Regions from separate parts of the Homo sapiens genome. Here region 2 is linked to region 1. Evidence: fine-mapped expression QTL. A gene starts in region 1. The other region holds a variant in brackets. All regions are shown on one strand. Distances are from middle to middle. Region 1 holds the start of PLAU (plasminogen activator, urokinase). Region 2 has its middle 14 kb from the start of C10orf55.

What was found. PIP is the estimated chance that this variant, and not a neighbour inherited with it, causes the effect.
Region 2: its variant is fine-mapped to the expression of PLAU in left ventricle (GTEx, PIP 0.97).

The regions. Positions count from the first base shown.
Region 1 is chr10:73,905,232-73,917,653 of GRCh38, forward strand. PLAU (plasminogen activator, urokinase) reads left to right here and starts at 5,901. Exons shown (of 11, transcript NM_002658.6): 1 at 5,901-5,987; 2 at 6,294-6,381; 3 at 6,810-6,837; 4 at 6,984-7,091; 5 at 7,693-7,867; 6 at 8,059-8,150; 7 at 8,308-8,527; 8 at 8,749-8,897; 9 at 9,545-9,685; 10 at 10,020-10,168; 11 at 11,158-12,263. The coding sequence starts at 6,325. The coding sequence ends at 11,334. C10orf55 (chromosome 10 putative open reading frame 55) reads right to left here. Exons shown (of 5, transcript NR_160938.1): 2 at 11,288-11,410; 3 at 7,812-7,844; 4 at 6,969-7,053; 5 at 4,738-6,864. RefSeq lists enhancers at 3,377-4,576, 3,932-4,882, 4,132-4,181, 7,800-8,999, 8,610-9,163 and a silencer at 5,848-6,447.
Region 2 is chr10:73,930,926-73,943,347 of GRCh38, forward strand. No RefSeq gene overlaps it. Among named protein-coding and RNA genes, the nearest start is that of C10orf55, 14 kb to the left of the region's middle. RefSeq lists enhancers at 1,026-2,225, 1,460-1,509, 9,780-9,939 and silencers at 1,090-1,149, 1,270-1,319. The variant G/A (reference allele first, on the strand shown) is at 7,009.

The DNA of each region.
Region 1 (12,422 bases):
TTAAAAAATATATTATAGAGACGAGGTCTCACTATGTTGCCCAAACTGGTCTGATACTCCTGGGCTCAAGCCATCCTCCTGCCTCGGCCTCCCAAAATGTTGGGATTACAGGTGTGAGCCACTGCATCTGGCACTCTTCCTTTTCTTTAGTCCCTGCCACATTCCCCACCATCACTGTCTCCAGAGTAAACAAAGAACGCCCATGTAGATTACCCACATACTGTTCCTCCCATTCACTCTGCACACACACCTGCCTCCAGGGATCCCTGCTCCCTCTTCCCACAGATATTCATACATTTAGTCCTCTAGCAGCCTTCTCAAAGGAGACTGTCCCCTCTGCAGGACGTGGCTGCCTCCAAACCCTCCTCAGAGGCTCAGCAAACCAGAGAAAAGAAGCACCTTCTGCAGGAGGGTGGGCAAGATAGATTGAGGATGGGGATGGATGGTGATCGGGAAAAGGGAGGAGCTGAGGATTCAGAATAAGAAAGGAGAGGGTGGAAATGTGTCATGAAGTTCCTCAAAATCTGTGAATCCTGAATCTCATCATTTTTAGTGAATGAACTCAGATGATTCACTTCCCTTCATTAGCCTCTATTTTCCTCTCTGTGTAATGGAAGGGGAAGTGCTTGCTTTGAAGACAGAGATGCATATAGAATCCAGCACATAGAATCCAGCTTGGGAGAGCCATGAGCATGTGGAATTAGACATCATATGGGTTATGAATATTATGTTAGTTTTCTTCTGAATAGGATTTTTTCAGTATTTCAGCTTCTGGCTGAACATATATCCCTAAATATTATTGATTTTTTGGCAGTCTTCAGCAAGCCCACCATTTGCTGGTTAGTCATCCCAGTCCTTTGTTCCTGGGCATGCCCCTTTGCTTCTAGTTAAGCATCTATTGCCACCCAACATGGTAACCAGAACTCTGAGCAGAAGTTTTAGGACCAGGGCCTAACTTTGGTTCCTGGTGAGGGGCTCAGAATCCAGAAGGTCTGGTAAGCCATGACCAACACTACTTTTTTTTTTTTTTTAATGGAGTCTCGCTTTGTCACCCAGGCTGGAGTGCAGTGGCCCGATCTCGGCTCACTGCACCCTCTGCCTCCCGGGTTCAAGCGAGTCTTCTGCCTCAGCCTCCTGAGGAGCTGGGATTACAGGCGTGTGACACCACACTGGCTAATGTTTGTATTTTTAGTAGAGACGGGGTTTCACCATGTTGGCCAGGCCAGTCTCGAACTCCTGACCTCAAGTGATCCAGCCGCCTCAGCATCCCAAAGTGCTGGGATTACAGGCGTGAGCCACCACACCTGGCAAACTACTTTAAAGCAGTAAGTTCCTGACTTAGGTAATAACTGGGTTTGGGTCAGGGAGGGACAAAGAAAAATTTGGCCAAGACTCATGACATACATGCAGAAGTCTGAGCTGAGTGGCCTGGGTAGGCCTAGGAAGCAGGCCAGAGCTGGTAAGGCAGAAAAAGAGTGAGGAAGGTTAGGGGGGTCATAGCCTGATGCTGGAGGGACCAGCTTTAGTTCCCCTTTCATGGTGCTACTGACGACAGTGTAACCTCAGGGTTCAGCCCCTGGGCTCTTTGCTTTCCATGAGTAAGGAAGCAAGAATGCTGCCTCCCTCCACCCCTTCCACAGCCTGCTGGGGGCCTGCAGCTCCAGCAATCCCCCTATCATGTTACATGCCCAGAAGCGGCTTTCAGTGCCTGCCGTTGCCAGCTGGCTTCACCCTTCACACTAGACACTCAGGAAGAAGGGGTCCTTAGACTCAAGGAAGCTATGTGACCAGCATTCCGTACCTCCTTCCCAGAACTGTTGAAGAGTCCGTCTGCCCCATGTGTAGGAGGGAAAGAGGCGCTTCAGGCCACACAGGGACACAGACAAGAGGGAGAGGGAGTAAGCATAGGCAATGTGGGAGTGAACAGCACATGCAGCTGTGGGTCCAGCTGCCTGATTGCTGGGAACTGCTGGCCAAGGATACAGCATCCCCATTGGCCTGGAATCCTGGAATGGACTCCAGCCTGACTTGGTCTTCTGAGTCAATCCAGCCACAGTCAAAAAGGGGAGGCAGGCACTCGATGTAGGAATTACAGTTTACACAGTTCCTCTTCCTATCTCTAGCATCCAGAACTGCGCCCAGCACACAGTAGGTCCATGATAAATATGGAATGAATGAATACTTTTACATGCAAGCATGATCTCAGCCAATCTGCAGAGTGAGGCACAGGCTGGACAGGTGGATCACCTGAGGTCAGGGGTTCAAGACCAGCCTGGACAACATGGTGAAACCCCATCTCTACTAAAAATATAAAATTAGACCGGCATGGTGGCAGACACCTGTAATCCCAGCTACTTGGGAGGCTGAGGCAGGAGAATTGCTTGAACCCAGAAGGTGGAGGGTGCAGAGAGCCAAGATTGTACCATTGCACTCCAGCCTGGGTGACAAGAGCGAGACTCCACGTCAAAAAAAAAAAAAAAAAAAAAAAGAGTTAAGCAACTTGCCTAAGATCATTCAACTTTGATGTAGCAGACTGAAGGCTAGGCACTGTGGTCTTTCTATAGTGCCATGCTGAGCATTCTTCATATACAACACAGAATTGCATCCTATGACTCCATGGGAACTTCCTTTTGGGTCAGAAAATAGTCCTTAGGGGCTGAGTTTCCTGGACTTAGTCTCAGGGCCAGGTTTGGATACCCTGCCCCTCCCTGCGCATCTGGCATCTGCCTTCCCTTTTATGAGAATCTCCTGGAAAGGGCTTCTCCAGCAGTCTGTGTTGCCACATCTGACTCAGGAGCTCTGTACCCTTGAGACACAGAGGCAGGGGTTGGTGGCTTCACCCTAGGAGTCAGGAAAAGAATGAAATCATACACATTCAGTTCCTTATTCTCTTACCCTCAACAGAAATTTCAGACAGCCTAGACCACAGAGACAGTTCTTGGAATTCAGGCAAACAACTAATTTGTATTACAGCGGGTGCAACTTAAGAGCTCAGAGTCCATAGTCCGAGCAGTCTTTCTGGAAGGAGGTCTCCAAAGTCAGGAGGAGGGCTCCCCTGAGCTGGATCATCTTAGCTCACTGGCCCCTCCCTTCACAGCGTTCTGTCTTTTATGGAGACAGTGAGGTATAGCGCATAGGAACAAGGATCAGAAGACGCTGGGTTTTAGTGCTGGCTTTGCTGCTCATCAACTGTGTATCTTCTCTCCACTTCATTTTCCATATCTGCAAAATGGGAACAACAATACCAGTCTATATCATAAGGCAGTTATGAGTTTAAAGAGAAATGGTTTACATTAATGTGCCTTGAAGCACAAGACAGAAATACAATATAAAAAATATGGCTGGGGCCGGGCACGGTGGCTCACGCCTGTAATCCCAGCACTTTGGGAGGCCGAGGTGGGCGGATCACAAGGTCAGGAGATCGAGACCATCCTGGCTAACACGGTGAAACCCCATCTCTACTAAAAATACAAAAAATTAGCCGGGTGTGGTGGCAGGCGCCTGTAGTCCCAGCTAGTCGGTAGGCTGAGGCAGGAGAATGGCGTGAACCCGGGAGGCGGAGCTTGCAGTGAGCCGAGATTGTGCCACTGCACTCCAGCCTGGGTGACAGACCGAGACTCCGTCTCAAAAAAAAAAAAAAAAAAATATGGCTGGGCGTGGTGGCTCATGCCTGTAATCCCAGCACTTTGGAAGGATGAGGTGGGAGGACCCCTTGAACCCAGAAGCCCAGCAAAACCTTGTCTTTAAAAAAAAAAAAGAACTGTGCACAAAGATTTCAGAGAGTGCTAAAGATTAGCGCATGGATAAGGAAGTTCTGTGAAGAGTTGAAGTGCTAGGTGAAGAGGTGGCACGGGGGAGGAGGGGGCGGAAGGGGAGAAAGGGTGTCACGCTTCATAACGGTCTCCAAACCTCTTTGTCCAGGAGGAAATGAAGTCATCTGCTCTCAGCAATCAGCATGACAGCCTCCAGCCAAGTAATCTGGAGTCATGAGAGCTGCTAGGGGAGCAACATGAATCATGACGGTCCCTGGGAATTTCCTGATAACTAACCTGGGAGTTTCGGGGTAAGTCCTCAGGCTGCAGCATCTCTGTTTATGTTCTGGTCACGTTTATTTACAATTAATGGGTTCTCAAATCCAAACAAAACTGACCACAGTCTTCTAGAGGAAGTAGCAAGGTTGGCTCTGAAGCCTATAGCATCGCTGACTCAGTCTGTCCCCTGGAAGGCTGGCAGCTCAGCAAGCACAGAAGTCTCTCCAGAAGACAGTGGGTCACCTGCCTCCCAAAAGCTGAAAGGCTAACTTGTACTTTCCCCAGCAGGCAGCTGGCACCCTGAGCCCTCGGCTGGGGCAGAGCAAAGGAGCCTTCCTCCTTCCTACCTTCCTGGCACTCTCCCTGCCTTCCTTCTGTCACTCTCAGGTGGACCCAGACCCAAGGTCCAGATTTGCAAGGCAGGAAAATGCTGCAGGCCTAGGCTGGGAAAGGGCCCAAAGCCGCTAGTGGATTGCTGGGACTCAGCCTCCTCCTTCCCACTAAGAGAGCGAGTCCTACTGGGTTCAAAATGACCCCAAGCCCTGGTTCCTGACACTAGGGGAAAGAGATGGGGGTGACAGAATCACAGAATCCCTGCTATGTTCCTCCAAGTGTGCCCAGAGATGCGTGTGTGTGTGTGTGTGTATACACAAATGTCTGCTTATCCTCAGGCAGGAAGGGTGGATGCAGTCATTTACACATGGTCTGTTTTTCTGGAGGACAATTTTATTTGATAAACAATTGTTTCTATCTGAATAGAATAAACAAGGCTCTATGATGAAGTAAAACACTAAATACACATGCATTAAAAAATGCATAATTATCTTTTTGGAATGGGCTATACAGAGATGTGCTTTTTAAAATGTTAAGAGTGTAAAAGGACAAACAGTGAAAAATAAATCTTCCTCTTATTTTGTCCTCCAGTCTCCCAATTCCTCTACTCAGAGGTGAGAACAGAACTTCCACACCCTCCAGAACCTCCACAGTTAGAACTGTCTACATGTTTCCATTGTCTTTACTTTTATTCTTGCCTGCACAAATAAATGAATTGCTCATTATGGAAACTTCCCAAAAGACCCGTTAACACTTCAATAGGAAGCACCAACAGTTTATGCCCTAGGACTTTGTTCCCACAATCCTGTAACATCATATCACGACACCTAACCCAATCCTTATCAAGCCCTGTCAAAAACGGACTTTAAACCAAGCTGCAAATTTTCAGTAATCTGGCCTTGCCTTTCCCCCTCTGATAGCACCATCAAACAAACCCCCTTACTGCCGAAAGCAATAAGCCCGGCTTTGTTCCATCCACTGGTTGTGTTGGTGATATCTGGGGACTGCCACTGAACAGACGCACAGAGGGAGCCCCTACAGGCAGGGGTTTTTCTGTCTGTGCTTCTGGGAGAGTATGTCTCGTACATTTGTCGCGTTGATGAAGACTTCACAGCTCCATCAGCTGCGGGCAAGGGGGTCTGAGGCAGTCTTAGGCAAGTTGGGGCCCAGCGGGGAGAAGTTGCAGAAGAACTGATTAGAGGACCCCAGGAGGCTTCAGAGCTGGGCGAGGTAGAGAGTCTCCTGTGCGCCTTCTCTCCTCTCTGCAATTCGGGGACTCCTTGCACTGGGGCAGGCCCCCGGCCAGGTGCATGGGAGGAAGCACGGAGAATTTACAAGCCTCTCGATTCCTCAGTCCAGACGCTGTTGGGTCCCCTCCGCTGGAGATCGCGCTTCCCCCAAATCTTTGTGAGCGTTGCGGAAGCACGCGGGGTCCGGGTCGCTGAGCGCTGCAAGACAGGGGAGGGAGCCGGGCGGGAGAGGGAGGGGCGGCGCCGGGGCGGGCCCTGATATAGAGCAGGCGCCGCGGGTCGCAGCACAGTGCGGAGACCGCAGCCCCGGAGCCCGGGCCAGGGTCCACCTGTCCCCGCAGCGCCGGCTCGCGCCCTCCTGCCGCAGCCACCGGTGAGTGCCGCGGTCCTGAGATCCCCGGGCCGGATGCGCGGCGGCCCCAGCTCCCGAGCGTCTGCCTCCCCCGCCCTGGGCTGCCCGGGCTCCCTGGGCTCCCCGGCGGCTGCACGGAGTCAAGGCGCCCCGTCCCGGGCGTCCCCCGCGGGTGCCGATCCAGGCTGCCCGGAGTCCGGAGCCCAGAGAGGAGAGAGACAGCTGGGGAGCCTGGTCACCGCGGGCATCTCCCCTGCGCTGCAGTCGCCCGCCTGGCCTGCCTTCCCGTTCCTCCGCCTCTTGCCCTGACTTCTCCTTCCTTTGCAGAGCCGCCGTCTAGCGCCCCGACCTCGCCACCATGAGAGCCCTGCTGGCGCGCCTGCTTCTCTGCGTCCTGGTCGTGAGCGACTCCAAAGTGAGTGCGCTCTTGCTTTGACTGATGCTGCCCAAGGACCTCTGATCAGCACCAGGGGAGAGGAGGGGCTGCTCAGGGAGCTGGGGTCCTCCGGATTCCATCCACAGCAGGGCCAGACTCTCCCCAGGAAATGGGACAGGGTGGCAGCGGAGGCTTGAGAACCACGGGGGTTGGCACTGGCTGGCAAGGGAGGAAGAGGCCGCCGGGACTGCCCCAGCCTGCGGGCATCTGGTAGATGAAGCTTGCTTGGGTCAATCCATTTCTCCTGGCTGGAAACCCATGGTCTTCCATTTGAGAACTAGATACGAACAGGGTGAGGCGAGAGGGAGAGGGAAGAGTGGGTTTTGGGATTGGGGCCAGTTTACCCTCACCCTGGAGTCCCTGGAGCATGGGACCTTTGATGAAGCCTCCTCCCGAATCTCTTCCAGGGCAGCAATGAACTTCATCAAGTTCCATGTGAGTATCCACCCCTACAACAGTTGGCTGCACAGACAAGTTGGGAAGGCTTCAGGGGACATCCCCTCCCTGCCCTCTGCTGCAGGGCTGCGCCACCCCTTACCACTTCCACTCCCCCTCGCTTACCCCACCTTTGTTCTCTCCAGCGAACTGTGACTGTCTAAATGGAGGAACATGTGTGTCCAACAAGTACTTCTCCAACATTCACTGGTGCAACTGCCCAAAGAAATTCGGAGGGCAGCACTGTGAAATAGGTATGGGGATCTCCACTGCAACTGGGAGAGAAATTTGGGGACAGGGAGGGATGGGTGGGAGGCAAGAGCAGGCAGGAGTTAGGAGCTGGAGGTAGGGTGGGTGACATCTTCATCCCTATGTGACAAGCATAAACACACACACACGCTCACGAAACAGTGGCCACACAAATGTGAGGTGGGGTTGGAAGGAGACCCTGTCCAGTCTTCTGGCAGGTCTGAAACGACATCTTTAAAATGTCCGTTGGCAGCCGGGCATGGTGGCTCACGCTTGTAATCCCAGCATTTTGAGAGGTCAAGGTGAGTGGATCATTTGAGGTCAGGAGTTCAAGACCAGCCTGGACAACATGGTGTAACCCTGCCTCTACTAAAAATGCAAAAATCAGCCTGGCATGGTAGTGGATGCCTGTAGTCCCAGCTACTTGGGAGGCTGAGGCAGGAGAATTGCTTGAACCTGGGAGGCAGAGATCTCAGTGAGCTGAGATCACACCACTGCACTCCAACTGGGCGACAGAGCAAGACTCCATCTCAAAAAAAAAAAATAAAAGTTAGTTGGAATGTTCTTCTCTTTCTCATATTCTCTCATCCTCCTGTCCCCTTGTAGATAAGTCAAAAACCTGCTATGAGGGGAATGGTCACTTTTACCGAGGAAAGGCCAGCACTGACACCATGGGCCGGCCCTGCCTGCCCTGGAACTCTGCCACTGTCCTTCAGCAAACGTACCATGCCCACAGATCTGATGCTCTTCAGCTGGGCCTGGGGAAACATAATTACTGCAGGTGAGGTGGGGGCAACAAGGACCAAAAGCCCTCCCTACAGCTTCCCAGAAACCTTGTTACCATCCCCTTCTCCCAGAGGGCTGGCCATAGCACAAGAGAAGTGCGGCCTCTGGTTGAGTCTTCCCTGAGGGGAGGAGGCAGGGAAGGCCCTCTGGGTTGGAATGACATCCCCTATCTTTCTGTGTTGCCAGGAACCCAGACAACCGGAGGCGACCCTGGTGCTATGTGCAGGTGGGCCTAAAGCTGCTTGTCCAAGAGTGCATGGTGCATGACTGCGCAGATGGTGAGCATCACTGACCTGCTGATGACAGTGGGGTGGAAGGGGACAAACTTACATGTCCCCTTATTCCATCACAGGAGGACTGAGGAGGTGGGGGGTGCCCGAGAGGGATGCTTTCTCCTACCTGCCTCCCTAAGACATCCCTCTGTTTGTCCTCCAGGAAAAAAGCCCTCCTCTCCTCCAGAAGAATTAAAATTTCAGTGTGGCCAAAAGACTCTGAGGCCCCGCTTTAAGATTATTGGGGGAGAATTCACCACCATCGAGAACCAGCCCTGGTTTGCGGCCATCTACAGGAGGCACCGGGGGGGCTCTGTCACCTACGTGTGTGGAGGCAGCCTCATCAGCCCTTGCTGGGTGATCAGCGCCACACACTGCTTCATGTACGGCCCTGGGTTTCTCCTCTTCGACTCTTCTGCCCCACCCCAAGCACATCCCTTTCTCCTTCCCAGCAAAGTGTTCCGCCTCATTTCTCCCTCATCTGCCCCTGTCCATGCAGCCCATGGCCTTGGGGACAAGTCGTGCTTTGAGGCCTCTAGGGAGGGAAGGAAGAAGTGGCAGATTTCATGGGACTAAGCTGTTTGATGGGTATCTTCTCCCACAGTGATTACCCAAAGAAGGAGGACTACATCGTCTACCTGGGTCGCTCAAGGCTTAACTCCAACACGCAAGGGGAGATGAAGTTTGAGGTGGAAAACCTCATCCTACACAAGGACTACAGCGCTGACACGCTTGCTCACCACAACGACATTGGTGAGGGGGAACCCCGCGACTACTGTGGCCATAATGGCTTGGGGAGAGTGGGACCCAGGGAGAGACTGGAGCTGAGGTTGAAGCTGCCCGGTGGGGCAGGGGTGGGGCGAGGGACCTTGAAGCCTCGATATACATGACAAAGGGAGTGGCAGGGAAGAGTTCCATGAAGTCTGAGGGGCCTGGTGCTCCTCTGGAGAGACCCTGAATTTCCCCAACAAGTAGCCTCTTGCGAGTGGAAACAGCCCTGTGGGTATATGGCTTGGGCTGGGAAGGCCCTGTTTATATGAATTAGAAAAAGACACACCTTCCTTTGTGGGATGCAGCCTCTGTCTGTGCTAGGATATAGAACTTGGAGAATGGAGCCTTGGGATGGATTCCAGCCTAACTACCTCAGCTGGGAGTTTTTGCAGAAACGACCTGTACAGCTGTATGCAGTGGCTCTGGCCATCCAAGCCTTTTTCAACACCTGGAACAAAGCCCTTGGGGCATGGGGCAGGGGAGGTTTCCAGGTGATAAGCGACCAGCAGACCTCCCTGGATGACTGACCTAGGGATAGGCATAGCTACTTCCTCGGCACTTGGAGGGGACAGATGGGGACCGCCTAACCAGTAGTGATCTTTCTCCTCTGACCCTCTGTCCTCCCCCAGCCTTGCTGAAGATCCGTTCCAAGGAGGGCAGGTGTGCGCAGCCATCCCGGACTATACAGACCATCTGCCTGCCCTCGATGTATAACGATCCCCAGTTTGGCACAAGCTGTGAGATCACTGGCTTTGGAAAAGAGAATTCTAGTAAGTGACAATTGCGACTGACTTAGAAGGTCCTGAGGAGTGTTTTGACCTGAAAATGAGCCCAGCGTGATCAAGGGAAGACTGCAGAGTTAGAGGTGGGAGCACTGAGGCGGTGGCAGATGGGTCCAGGGATGGATGAAGAGTGTTGTTTAGGGAGCGATGGGCTGCAAAGGTAAATAGATGGTAGGGGCTATAGGTGGAGTAAAGGCTCAGATTTGCATGGAAGAGAATAAGGGCCTTCCCTGGTAGAGATACTTTATGGTTCCCCTCTCTGGCAGACTCCCAGTGGACAGATAAATCTTGATGCAAACGCCTCCCTGTTTTCTCCACCTAGCCGACTATCTCTATCCGGAGCAGCTGAAAATGACTGTTGTGAAGCTGATTTCCCACCGGGAGTGTCAGCAGCCCCACTACTACGGCTCTGAAGTCACCACCAAAATGCTGTGTGCTGCTGACCCACAGTGGAAAACAGATTCCTGCCAGGTGAGTGTTCCAAGCATCTCTCTCCACCTCTTCCATATCTCCCCAGAGCTCCTGGGCTTGTTCCAGCCAGCTTAAGGGTGTCTCTCTCTAGCCAAAGCCCTAAGTAGCCAGAATCAGGAGCTCAGGTCTTTGAGGGTTTAAACCAGTCCTTATGTGTTTGCCAGACATTACCAAAAAAATCCCAGCTCTGCGCTAGTCACTTCAGACTGGGGGCACGAGATCCTAGAAAGAGGAAACAGTAAAAGACAATGTAACTCAGTGCCCAGGGTGTGTTGTGAACTATAAATGATCAGGTGTTCAGGAGAGGGAGGTGAGTGCCAACCTGAGGGTCAGGGAGGGGAGGCTTTAAAGGAAATGTGACTTGATAGGCATTTGAAGAGGCAGAGGGAAGAAAGGAAGGTGTTTCAGTTGAAAGATACAAAACTGAGAAGGAGGCTGGCATATTCCGGGTGGGGAGGAGAACTAGGGTCTGGGAGTGTGGATGGAATAGTGGCAGATGACAGGGCTTTTAAAGCCAAGCAGGGGATTTTAAACTTGATGTGGTAGAAAATGGGGCTGCGTCAGGCACAGTGGCTCATGCCTGTAATCCCAGCACTTTGGGAGGCCGAGGTGGATGGATCACTTGAGGCCAGGAGTTTGAGACCGGCCTGGCCAACATGGTGAAACCCTGTGTCTACTAAAAATGCAAAAAAAAATTAGCCAGGTGTGGTGGTGCCTGCCTGTAATCCCAGCTAATCAGGAGGCTGAGACATGGGAATCGCTTGAGCACAGGAGGCAAGTTTGCAGTGAGCTGAGATCACGTCATTGCACGCCAGCCTGGGCGACAGAGCGAGATTCTGTCCTCCCCCCGAAAAAAAGAAAGAAAATGGGAAGTCGCTAAGGACTTTGACTGGGAAACTCTTCCCTCTCTCTGGTATGGTTGGGTGATGGGATCAGAAATCCCCTCCTCACTTCTCTAGGGCTCATCTTTTGTATCTTTGGCGTCACAGGGAGACTCAGGGGGACCCCTCGTCTGTTCCCTCCAAGGCCGCATGACTTTGACTGGAATTGTGAGCTGGGGCCGTGGATGTGCCCTGAAGGACAAGCCAGGCGTCTACACGAGAGTCTCACACTTCTTACCCTGGATCCGCAGTCACACCAAGGAAGAGAATGGCCTGGCCCTCTGAGGGTCCCCAGGGAGGAAACGGGCACCACCCGCTTTCTTGCTGGTTGTCATTTTTGCAGTAGAGTCATCTCCATCAGCTGTAAGAAGAGACTGGGAAGATAGGCTCTGCACAGATGGATTTGCCTGTGCCACCCACCAGGGCGAACGACAATAGCTTTACCCTCAGGCATAGGCCTGGGTGCTGGCTGCCCAGACCCCTCTGGCCAGGATGGAGGGGTGGTCCTGACTCAACATGTTACTGACCAGCAACTTGTCTTTTTCTGGACTGAAGCCTGCAGGAGTTAAAAAGGGCAGGGCATCTCCTGTGCATGGGTGAAGGGAGAGCCAGCTCCCCCGACGGTGGGCATTTGTGAGGCCCATGGTTGAGAAATGAATAATTTCCCAATTAGGAAGTGTAACAGCTGAGGTCTCTTGAGGGAGCTTAGCCAATGTGGGAGCAGCGGTTTGGGGAGCAGAGACACTAACGACTTCAGGGCAGGGCTCTGATATTCCATGAATGTATCAGGAAATATATATGTGTGTGTATGTTTGCACACTTGTGTGTGGGCTGTGAGTGTAAGTGTGAGTAAGAGCTGGTGTCTGATTGTTAAGTCTAAATATTTCCTTAAACTGTGTGGACTGTGATGCCACACAGAGTGGTCTTTCTGGAGAGGTTATAGGTCACTCCTGGGGCCTCTTGGGTCCCCCACGTGACAGTGCCTGGGAATGTATTATTCTGCAGCATGACCTGTGACCAGCACTGTCTCAGTTTCACTTTCACATAGATGTCCCTTTCTTGGCCAGTTATCCCTTCCTTTTAGCCTAGTTCATCCAATCCTCACTGGGTGGGGTGAGGACCACTCCTGTACACTGAATATTTATATTTCACTATTTTTATTTATATTTTTGTAATTTTAAATAAAAGTGATCAATAAAATGTGATTTTTCTGATGACAAATCTCCCTGGTGCTTGTATGGGAAGGAGTTGGAGTACATAAAAAGGAGAAAATAACAAAGGTGGACTGCACCCTAGAGTTTCTTATGGGACTGCATCTCTGGACTTAATGGAGCTTTGGGAGGTAGAGGTTAGGAGAGCTGTAGGGCAGGGCC
Region 2 (12,422 bases), 26 kb after region 1:
CAAGTCACGTGATTACAAGATAGGGGGCCCTTCCCTTTTAGGTAGCCGAAGCAGAGAGAGAAGGCAGTATACGTCAGCATTTTCTTCTCTGCACTTATAAGAAAGATCAAAGACTTTAAGATTTTCACTATTTCTTCTACCACTATCTACTAGGAACTTCAAAGAGGAACCAGGAGTACGGGAGGAGCATGAAAGTGGACAAGGAGTGTGACCATTGAAGCACAGCACCACAGGGAGGGGTTTAGGCCTCCGGATGACTGAAGGCAGGCCTGGATAATATCCAGCCTTCCACAAGAAGCTGGTGGAGCAGAGTGTTCCCTGACTCCTCCAAGGAAAGGAGACTCCCTTTTGCAGTCTGCTAAGTAACGGGTGCCTTCCCAGACACTGGTGTTACCACTTGAACAACGAGCCCTCAAGCAGCCCTTATGCGGGCGTGACAGAAGGCTCACCTCTTGCCTTCTAGGCCACTTCTCACAATGTCCCTTCAGCACCTGACCCTATACCCACCGGTTATTCCTAGGTTATATTAGTAATGCAACAAAGAGTAATAGTAAAAGCTGATGATTAATAATGTTTATAATAATGATTGATAATTGTCCATGATCATCTCTATATCTAATTTGTATTATGACTATTCTTATTCTAACTATTTTCTTTATTATACTGAAACAGTTTGTGCCTTCAGTCTCTTGCCTCAGCACCTAGGTAATCTTTCGCCCACACCTGTAATCCCAGCACTTTGGGCAGCCAAGGTGGGTAGATCACTTGAGCTCAGGAGTTTGAGATCAGCCTGGCCAACATGATGAAACCCCGTCTCTACTAAAAATACAAAAATTTGCTTGGCGTGGTGGCAGGCACCTGTAGTCCCAGCTACCTGGGAGGCTGAGGCAAGAGAATCGCTTGAACCAGGAGGTGGAGGTTGCAGTTAGCAGAGATTGTGCCATTGCACCACTCCAGCCTGGGTGACAGAGCGAGACTCTGTCTCAAAAAAAAGAAAGAAAGTCGGGTGGGGATCCCCCATCTAGAGTCCAGCCTCCTGGGGTTGGGCTGTTCAGCTCCAGGAAGCCCCTGGTGTGGCTAAAAGGTTTGGGCAGCCCCTGAAGCTGCCTTGGGATCAGACTCTCATTGGTGCTCCTCAGGTCTAGGATTTTCTTCCCAACTCAGAGGGGAGAAGGGAAATGACGTTGTTTATTGTGTCTGGAGCTGTGGGGCCTTTACCTAAGCCCTGTCAGGAAGGTTGTGTTTTCGCCAGCTGAGATGCTGGGAGATGCACCCAGGATGGCTGGGTGCCTGCGGGTTGGAGGGGAGAAAGCAGAGCGAAGGGAAGAGGTGTTAGACAAGCAAAGGAGCCCTGGCTCTTAATTTTCACCCCTAAGTCCTTGGTTTTGGCCTGGGACTGTAAAACCCCTCACAGAGCAGTAGGGGTTCTTAGCCCCAGGGTCAGACATGGAGTGGTCCCTGGAACCCTCAGTGCCTTACCCCAAGTGGCTAACCTCCTTCCTGAACAGGCAGATGTGTCATGCTGGGCAGCACCTCTCCCTCCCGACACCTGCATGGTGACTCAAACTCCCAGGTAAAGCCCAACCCGATGGGAAATGACTCAGCATTGAAGTTCTCTTCCCCTCATTGGGGAGGGAGCAGGAAGCCCGAAGCTGGGCCTGACGCTCCCCTTTGATTTCTCAAGGTAGTGACGGGGGAAGGGGAGCTTTGCAGGGGAGTTTTGCCTGGCCAACATGGTGAAACCCTGTCTCTACTAAAAATATAAACACTTGCTGGGCGTGGTGGCGGGCGCCTGTAATCCCAGCTACTCAGGAGGCTGAGGCAGGAGAATCACTTGACCCAGGAGGTGGAGGTTGCAATGAGCCGAGATTGTGCCATTGCACCACTCCAGCCTGGGTGACAGAGTGAGACTCCCTCTCAAAAAGAAGAAAGTTGGGGTGGGGTGTCCCCCTAGAGCATCTTCTTCCTACAGCTTCTGCTTTTACACACACACTCTCTCTCTCTCTGTGTGTGTGTATGTGTAGACAGTCTAGGACACTTGAGGGTGGGCGTGCTGGGATCTACAAGACTTCCCCCTTGCCTTCATCTCTGTTGCCTGCCACTTCCTACCCTGCTGCCCTTTAGGGAGAGTTGAAAGTTTATTTCCTGCCCCAGTGAATTATTATTATTTTTGACTAGCGAAGGTGGGATTTGGGCAATAGGGAGGACTTTTGCTGATTGCCCAGACTGGAGACCTGACAGTGGGGTAGTGCTTAGGAGAGTCCAGTCGCTAGATCACGAAAGCTCCATTTAAAATGCATAGTTGGGGCTAGGCATGGTGGCTCACGCCTGTAATCCCAGGATTCTGGGAGGCCTAGGCGATGGATCCCTTGAGGCCAGGAGTTAGAGACCAGCCTGGCCAACATGGCAAAACCCCGTCTCTACTAAAAACACAAAAATTAGCTGGGCGTGGTGGCATGCACCTGTAATCCCAGCTACTCAGGAGGCTGAGGCACGAGAATCACTTGAACTTAAGAGGCAGAGTTTGCAGGGAGCTGAGATCGTACCACTGCACTCCGGCCTGGGTGACAGAGTGAGACTCCATCTCAAATAAATAAATAAAAATAAAAATAAAATGCACAGTTGGACTGTCTCTGGAAGGTTGCGGGCGAACCAGAAATGTAGTGACCTCCAGGAAGGAAAATTGCTACTACTCTTTTCCACATATCCTTTGATCACTTTTAAATTGTGTTCCATTTGCAAGTACTACCTACTCAAATGGAAAGAATAAAACATGGTTACCTGGGAAGGAAGATAAAAAGAGAGTCCTTTTCCATATTAGTGCTAAGCACTTCGTACAGTTCGTCCTTAACTGGACAAGAATTACGGAATCTCTATAGGATGATGTCAGGAGCTGTGCTGGATTCTGGAGACTCAGCGTCTACAAAACAGCATCCCTTGCCTCACAGCGATCCCAGTTGGGAGAGCAATTCAGACAGACAGCAAGGCAATGAACACGCAGTGTCAGAAGCGTGATGATGAGAAGTGCAGACACCAGGGAATTGCAAAGGAGGCTCCTCTGCCCAGACCTGGGGAGAAAAGACCTTTCTGGACCCAGTGATATCCAAGCTGAGACCAGGAGTTAGTCGGAGGGGAAGAGAGCTCCAGGCACAGGGAACAGCACAACATACGCAAAGACTGCAGGAGCCGTATAAAACTTGACTGCTTCCTTGGAACTGCAAGCAGTCAACATGTCTGGAGTATTGAGTTTGGAGAGGGTGTGTGGAAGAATGAAGCCACAGAGGTAAGGTCAGATCATAGAGTATTTTATAAGCTAATGTAAGGTCAGTTAGTGGTCACCTTGAACAGGTGTGAAGCCCTGGGGGACAGGGGTTAATAATCTACCTGTATTGGAATGCTGTTTTGCCAAGCACTGTAATCTTTTTATGCATTAGCTCATTTAACACTTCCAAAAAGCGCCTGAGATTTTTACCATCATTTTTTTCTTTTCTTTTTTCTTTTTGTTTTTTGTTTTTGTTGTTGTTGTTGTTGTTTAGACGAAGTCTGACTCTGTAGCCCAGGCTGGCGTGCAGTGGCGTTATCTCGGCTCACAACAACCTCTGCCTCCCGGGTTCAAGCGATTCTCCTGCCTCAGCCTCCAGAGCAGCTGGGATTATAGGTGCGTGCCACTGCACCCGGCTAATGTTTTGTTTATTTAGTAGAGACAGGGTTTCGCCATGTTGGCCAGGCTAGTCTTGAACTCCCGACCTCAGGTAATCCACCTGCCTCGGCCTCCCAAAGTGCTAGGATTACAGGCGTGAGCCACCGTGCTTGGCCTACTATCATTTTTTTCTATTTAATGTTTTGTAAGTAAGTGAGGAAACTGAGGCTCAAAGAGGTTAAATTTAGTAGAAAATCTTACAGGGTCACAAATGGAATAATATAAATGTCTAGGGGCACAGCTAGCCCAGGGAGAGTGGGGATCTCACCCAGACATGCACTGTCTGCCATGCGACCTCCCCATTCAGATAGAGCAGTGGTTGTTGTCAATAAGGGTGGTGATTTTGCCCTCAGGAGACATTTGAAAGTGTCTGGAAACATTTTTGGTTGTCACAACTGGGAAGATGCTACTGGCATCTCATAGGTAACTAACATCCTACAATGTAGGATGCTCAAAATATCAACGTCACAACTGAGAAATCCTAGAGAATAAGTTGTAGAGGGCAGGCACAGAGAGGTAGTCAAGGGGTGAGCGTGAGAATTTTGGAAGGGAGTTTTTTCTTTTTTCTTTCTTTTTTTTTTTGAGATGGGGTCTTGCCTGCTTGTTGCCCAGGCTGGAGTGCAGTGCTGCAATCATAGCTCACTGCAGCCTTGAACTCCTGGGCTGGAGCAATCATCCCATGTCAGCCTCTTGAGTAGCTGACAGGTGTGTGCCACCATGCCTGGCTAATTTTTATATTTTTAATAGAGACAACAGGGTCTCACTATGTTGCCCAGGCTGGTCTCAAACTCCTAGGCTCAAGTGATCTACCCACCTTGGCCTCCCAAAAAGAGTGCTGGGATTACAGGTGTGAGCTGCCATGCCCGGGCAGGAAGAGACATTTTTTAAAGGCCTTGTAAATACTGTACTTATAGCAGCAAGAGACAGGAGTCAGCTCCAGTAAAGCCTGGGATGGACACAGCACATCCTTTCCTGACGTTCCTGCTGCTTCCAAGCACCAGCCTTAAGAGCCCAGAGGAAACTGCTAATGAATTTCCCTAGAGTTACCCAGAACTAATTCTGAGGGGTTTCCTGCCACCTCTCAGGTCCGGGACTGTTAAGGGGTACCAGCCAAGATGTCCAACTCCTCACCAGCATATTCTGCCAGACCAGGGCACCCTGCTCTGATCATGCTGAGACATGGGACCCAAGTCCAACACGTTTGGTCAATGCATGATTTCAAAGAATTGTAACATCAGCAGCAGAGAAACTGGAGACCCAAAGAATGGATTCAAATGCTTGTTGCCTGAATCTGCTCTTCTCACAAGTCCCTCAATATTGTACCTGAATATAATACCTTCTCCTGCATCAAGAGAGGACATTAGGTGGGTCCCAGCTGCCTCTTCAGGGATTTAACAGGCTAACCAGGAGCTCTCACTTGTCTTTCTACCTGCAAACTACAGAATGGGTGCAGATCTTTCCAGGAAGCTTATAAAAGCTCACAGGGTGAGGCGAAAGTTGGCTTAGTCTCAGAGATTCATTGTTGTTGGGAACGTAGAGCCCTGAGCGCTTTAAGTCCTGAAAATCTTCTAGTTTCTGATCTTTAGCTCAACTTTTAACTGTTTTCCTCCTGATTTTTGTTTGGCTTTCTGATTTGATTCTCTGGTTTGACATATGTGTCTGTCTTAATTAGGTTTTCCAGCAGGTCATGGCCCTGTCCCGGGCCCATGTAAACCATCAAAGGCTTGCCTCAGTCATCCCTATACCAGCTTCTCACCTTGCCCAGTCTTAGGGCCTGGGATCTAAGAGCCCTCTGGAAGATCTACCCTTTTTCTACATCTGAAAACTCACTATTAGAGAGTTAAAGTCTTCGAAACATTCCATGTTTCCCAAGGGTCCACATGGCAATTTTGTGATATATTTATAGGTAGCAAGTGGAACAAAGGGGTTTGTAGCCAAATAAATTTGGAGAATGTTATGTGAGGTTAGTTTCTTGTCTACAACAAGGCTTAATATGCTTTGAACAGGTTAAACATCCATACAATGAACTTAGTCAGCTCACAATCCAGTACCCAAAACCCTTGGAACCAGATATATTTGGATTTCAGAATATTTCAGGTTTTAATAAGGTAAATGGTGAATATGCTATTTATTCCACTATTTATTCCATTGCACCCAGAAGAGCTGGCAGGCCCTGTAATCAAGCACATACTTCTGCAGCAAAACATATGCATCTTCATACTAAGTAGGCTAAGTAAAAAATCTGAAAAGCCACAACATCATTTTAGGTCAGGTTTTACCCCTAAGTCTTGTTTTGTTTTTTGAGACGGAGTCTTGCTCTGTTGCCCAGGCTGGAGTGCAGTGGTGTGATCTCGGCTCACTGCAACCTTCACCTCCTGGGTTCAAGCGATTCTCCTGTTTCAGCCCCCCTAGTGACTGGGATTATAGACACACACCACCACACTGGGCTAATTTTTGTATTTTTAGTAGACATGGCATTTCACTATGTTGGCCAGGCTGGTCTCAAACTTCTGACCTCAAGTGATCCATCCACATCGGCCTCCCAAAGTACTGGGATTACAGGCATGAGCCATAGCACCCAGCCTGTTATTTTTTAAAACTTAGTTTTTAGCACTTTTTGGACTTCAACCTGATGGATACAGGATGGGGCCGTGTAGATGGTGTTCCCAACATAGATGATCTCAGAACTCCCTCTTCCAGGAGCATCTAGCAGGACAGGTATTTCATGGACTCCAAGGATACCCTCAGCTGTTAGTCTATAACACAGGAGAGTGAACACAGTCGGTCATTCTCACTTTAGCCTTATCCTCTCCCACACCAACTAGATGAGGTGAGGATTCTGACAGCCAAACAAGGAGGAGAAGCTGGAGAGCCTGTGCATGTGTGCAGATGTGGTTGGGGAGTCATGGTTCAGCTGTCAGCTTCTGGTGGAAAAGGGATACCAAAAAGAGCGGCATAGTGGACATCCAGGTTATGGTGGTTTTCTTCTGTGTACACTTCTGTGTTTTTCACATTTCCTTTAGAAATGACGAGCTTTTTCTCCCTTATTGCTGTTTTCTACTGCAGGGAGTTGCTGCTCTTAGTGTTGCAGTGTGGGGAGGTAGGATGGGGCTGACGCAGAGCCTGAGGGCAAGGCAGGGTTCCTGGGAAGATGGATTCCTGTGATTCTGGCCTTGTGCCTCAGCCAGAGCTGAGGTGGGGTGGGGTGTATGCCTAAGGCCAGGGTCCCCTGGGGAAGGAGGAGGATGTTGGATTTCTGGTGGATTTCCAGGAAGACTTCCTGCTCTGACAAAAACAACACAAACACA[G/A]GAAGAGGCTCTGGGGCCTAAGGAGAGGGGATAATGGACCAAGGTGGAGACTTTTGGGGTGGAGGCTGATACAGAGAGCAGCCCAGGAACAGAGAAGCTGCCTCCTCGCTGTCCAACTGTGTTCCCCAAGCCAGCTGAGAGTCTTTCTCTACTGTGGTGGCAAGTTGGGAACTGGAGGAAGAGGCCCAGTAACTTTGGACTCCCTGGCTTCTTCTCCACTTTTCATTGAGTATAATATTTCTTGGTGGCCTGGACCATGAGGATGGGGGTGGAGAGTAGGCAGTGGACTGCGGGGGGGCATTTGGCTAAGGCCTCAGATTATGTAGGGCCTCAGATACAGACCTTAAATGTGTGGGGTCACACACCTGTCAGAGCTACATTCAGCCTCACTGTGCGGGATCAGGTGAAGACATGCATCCTAAACTTGCTACCATTACCAGCCCTATGGTGTGCTGTAAACTCATTATCTTCATATGGCTTGTGAATTGCTCTGTTATGTTGCATTATATATGTATATATACACATATGTGTGTATGGGACTCTGTGTGTGTGTTTGTTGTAAACCAAAAATAAAAATCTAAGGCTACCCCCACCATCTGAAGAGACTCCCTCCTCTTGGCCAGGCCACTCCAAAGTTAACCTGAACAACTGTTTTCAGGCCATGAGGGGAAGTGGGGGTTGGACCTGCCTCATAATGCCCTCCTGCCTTTTGGAATTCAGGAAAAGCTGACCAGCATTAACAACAACATAGACCTTAAGTCTGATAAATAACCTTTACAATCTATTCTCTCCTGAAGCCTGCTATCTGGAGGCTTCATTTGCATGATAAAACTTTGGTCTCCATAACCTCTTATCATAACCTAGATATTTCATTCTAGTGATAACTCTTTTAACCATTGCCAATGAGAATTTTGTTTGTTTGTTTGAGATGGAGTCTTGAGTGCAGGCTGGAATGCAGTGGTGCAATCTTGGCTCACTGCAACCTCCGCCTCCCAGCTTCAAATGATTCTCCTGCCTCAGCCTCCTGAGTAGCTAGGATTACAGGTGCCTGCCACTACGCCCGGCTAATTTTTGTATTTTTTAGTAGAGACAGGGTTTTGCCATGTTGGCCAGGCTGGTCTCAAACTCCTGACCTCAGATGATCTGCCCACCTCAGCCTACCGAAGTGCTGGGATTACAGGCATGAGCCACTGCACCCGGCCTAGAAAATTTTTTAATCTACCTATAATCTTGAAGGCTCTGTACCCCATTCCCCATTTTGAGTTGTCCCCCCTTTCTGGATCTAACCAATGTACATCTTAAATGTGTTGACTGATGTCTCATGCCTCCCTAAAATGTATAAAACCAAGCTGTGCCCCTACCACCTTGGGCACATGTTCTCAGGGTCTCCTGAGGGCTGTATCACAAGCTATGGTCACCCATATTTGGCTCAGAATAAATCTCTTCAAATATTTTACACAGTTTGACTCTTTTCGTCAACTCTCTCTCTCTCTCTGCGTGTGTGTGTGTGTGTGTGTGTGTGTGTGTGTGCCACCACACCCGGCCAACATTTTTAAAAATAATAATAAATAAAAAAAATAATAAAATAATAAAACGGGGCCAGGCGCGGTGGCTCACGCCTGTAATCCCAGCAATTTGGGAGGCGGACGCAGGAAGATCGCTTAAGCCCAGGAGTTCGAGACCAGCCTAGGCAACAAAGTGAGACTTTCTCTCTACAAAAAATACAAAATACAGCTTTGGGCATTTTTTCTTTTTTTGAGATAGGGCCTGGCTTTGTCACCCAGGCTGGAGTGCAGTGGGTCATCACCACTCACTGCAGCCTGGACCTACTGGGCTGAAGTGATCCTCCCACCTCAGCCTCCCAAGTAGCTGAGACTACAGGCATGCGCCACCATGCCCAGCTAATTTTTGTATTTTTTGTGGAGATGGTGTCTCATTTTGTTGCCCAGGTTGGTCTCGAACCCCCGAACTCAAGTGATCCTCCTGCCTCAGCCTCCCCAAGTGCTGAGATTATAGGCGTGAGCCACCATGCCTGGCTTTCTTTTACTCATTTATTTATTTATTTGGGTGTGGGGGTCACAGCTTTGACTTGCTAAGTATACACATTTGAGATATACCACACTTTCAGTAACTTTGTTTTGGCATTAAAAATCTGTATCTATCTATATCTAGAGCTTTGAAAGGGAAGTAATAAACATTTTTTTTTTTTTTGAGACAGAGTCTTGCTCTGTCGCCCAGGCTGGAGTGCAGTGGCTAGATCTGGGCTCACTGCAAGCTCCGCCTTCTGGGTTCACGCCATTCTCCTGCCTCAGCCTCCCGAGTAGCTGGAACTACAGGTGCTCGCCACCACGCCCGGCTAATTTTCTTTGTATTTTTTAGTAGATACGAGGTTTCACCATGTTAGCCAGGATGGTCTCGATCTTCTGACCTCGTGATCCGCCCGCCTCGGCCTCCCAAAGTGCTGGGATTACAGGCGTGAGCCACTGCGCCCGGCCAACATTTTTTAAAATAATAAAACGGGGCCAGGTGCGGTGGCTCACGCCTGTAATCCCAGCACTTTGGGAGGCCGACGCGGGAAGATTGCTTGAGCCCAGGAGTTTGAGACCAGCCTGGGCAACAAAGTGAGACTTTGTCTCTACAAAAAATACAAAATAAAAATAAAACGGAAGGAGTCTGGCTCAGTCTTCACCTCTGAGAAGGGTAAGGAGAGCTCCAAACCGGAGCCTGAGAGCGCCTGTCCCCACTGGGCACTTGGACTGAGCGTCAAGAACCGAGGGCGGCCCGTGGGAGTCTTCCTTCCGCGGCCCGGGCGCGGTTCTGGCTTCATCTGCATCGCTCTGGCGGCCCCTGCTGGGCTGGCGGTGAAAGGCGACCCGGGATGGGGCGGTGCCCCGAGCTCTGGCTGGAGTAGGAGACACTGCGTGGGGGTGGCCTGGTGGGCAGCACGAAGACGTTGGGCTCAAGGGGACTCAAAGAAGACAAGCTCTGTTTACCGCACGGTTGTTTATTGCCACGCTGTGGGCTAAGGGATTGTTCTGAAAGTGCTGCTGAGGAAGGGGGCAAGTCCAGGTCTGAGGGCAAGACTGCTGAGCCCAGGGAGGGAAATGTCCGATTGCTGGGTGGGAATTCATGACCCTATTTCTTCTCTTCTCCTTCCCGGCTCCACGTGGTGACCATAAAGGGCCTGGCCTCTCTGAGCAGGGCAGCCATCCTCCTCCGTGCAGCTGGTTGGGGTCATGAACTCTGATTCAGAAAGAGGGAGCAGGATTTCTTGCTAAGACCTCCTGGCCGAAGTCAAATTCTCTGACCTGCTTTTACTGAAAAGCCTTGTTCTGAGGGCATACAGGAGCCTCAATCAACCATTTAATAAAAATGCTTCCTCACCGTCCTCATGGTCTTTATCCCTCTGGGGTGGAAGGTAGGATTCAGGGCCCCAAACCTTTCCCTGAGCATACTGGTTACCCAGTGGGTCCTAGTGAGTATTTGAGATAAAAATAGCTTATGGGAGCCTGTGGCTTAGTGCAGCTGCCATGGCTAGTGCCTTGACCAAAGGTGGTATCAGGTGATTTGGAAAATAGAGCCTTTTGGGTCTGGCAAAGGCTCACTTCAAATAGACAGAGGTTTTAGTCACTGTGAGTCAAGCAGTTTATGCCACCACAGCTTGCTGGCGCCCCTTCACCCATTCTCATCCAATGTATTGCAAATGGAAACTTTAAACTGGAAAAAGCAGCTTTTTATATATGACCACTTTTTTTTAAATTCTTTTTTGAGACAGGGTCTTCCTCTGTCACCCAGTCTGGAGTGCCGTGGTACCATCTCGGCTCACTTCAACCTCCGCCTCCTGGGCACAGGTGATCCTCCCACCTCAGCCTCCCGAGTAGCTGGGATTACAGGTGTGTGCCACCACGCCTGGCTAATATTTGCTACTTTTAGCAGAGGTGGAGTTTCACCATGTTGCCCAGGCTGGTCCTGAACTCCTGGGCTCAAGTGATTTACCCACCTCAGCCTCCCAAAGTGCTGGGATTATAGGTGTGAGCCACCACTCCCAGCCATAGCCACTTCTTTATATATGGTTCTTCATATTTGTGTGTGAAGTTTTGAGTCCTTAGGTCGCTAGTGGTAGCAGCCTTCCCAGATTCTGTCATCTTTCTCTTGTTTTGTACATGACCCAGAGCCTATTAATAGGGAACCGTGGCCAAGCTAAGCCCTTAGGCTCACGAAGCAGGTTCAGAGGTCCCTGAGTCCTACCCTCCTCCACTCTCAGGCCCGGCATTGGCCTGACAGGTTGACTGCCCAGACCCTTGCCATGGCTGTGGATTCAGCCACCAGAGGGTGGTCAGTTTTACTGGTGGACAATAAAGGGGAATATCCGATTTGTAGTAATTGAAAAAGCCCATTTTCAGAGCAGTCTATGTCTGGGAATCAGGTTTGCTTTGACTCGGGGAGAAACTAGATTGTTTTGAAAAATGAATTTTAGGACCGGGCGCAGTGGCTCACGCCTGTAATCCTAGCACTTTGGGAGGCTGAGGTAGGTGGTTCACGAGGTCAGGTGTTCAAGACCAGCCTGACCAACATGGTGAAACCCCATCTCTACTAAAAATACAAAAATTAGGCGGGTGTGGTGGTGCGCGCCTGTAATCCCAGGTACTTGGGAGGCTGAGGCAGGAGAATCACTTGAACCCGGGAGTCAGAGGTTGCAGTGAGCCGAGATCGCACCACTGCACTCCAGCCTGGGCAACACAGCAAGACTCTGTCTCAAAAAGAAAAATGAATTTTAGTCTTGCAAACTGAAGAGCAGTGGAAAATGAAAGGTAACTGAGGGACATATATTTTAATCTTTTATTGTAAAACATGGCATAGAAAAGAAAACCACACAAATCAAATGTATAGCTTAATTTATTATTATAAGGTAAAACCACCCAGATTAAGAAATAAGGCCAGGCGTGGTGGCTCATGGCTCTAATCCCAGCACTTTGGGAAGCCGAGGCAGGTGGATCACTTGAGTCCAGGAGTTTGAGACCAGCCTGGGAAACATGGCGAAACCCCATCTCTACTAAAAATATAAAAAACTAGCCAAGCGTGGTGGTGTGCACCTGTAGTCCCAGCTACTCAGGAGGCTGAGGTAGGAGAATCATCTGAGCTCGGGAGGTTGAGGCCGTGGTGAGCCGAGATTGTGCCATTGCACTCCAGCTTGGGCAACTGGAGTGAGATCCTGTCTCAAAGAAGAAAAAAATAAAAAAATTTTCCAGCCTCCCCAGAAAACCTTCTGTGTGCACTGTTCAAATCACAACCCTCCCTCCTCCCACAAACCATCACTATCCTGAGTAATACAGCAATCAAAATGGATATTTTGGAGGACAGCTTAGACATATAAACCCAAACTAACTACTTTTATTTTATTTTATTTTTTAGAC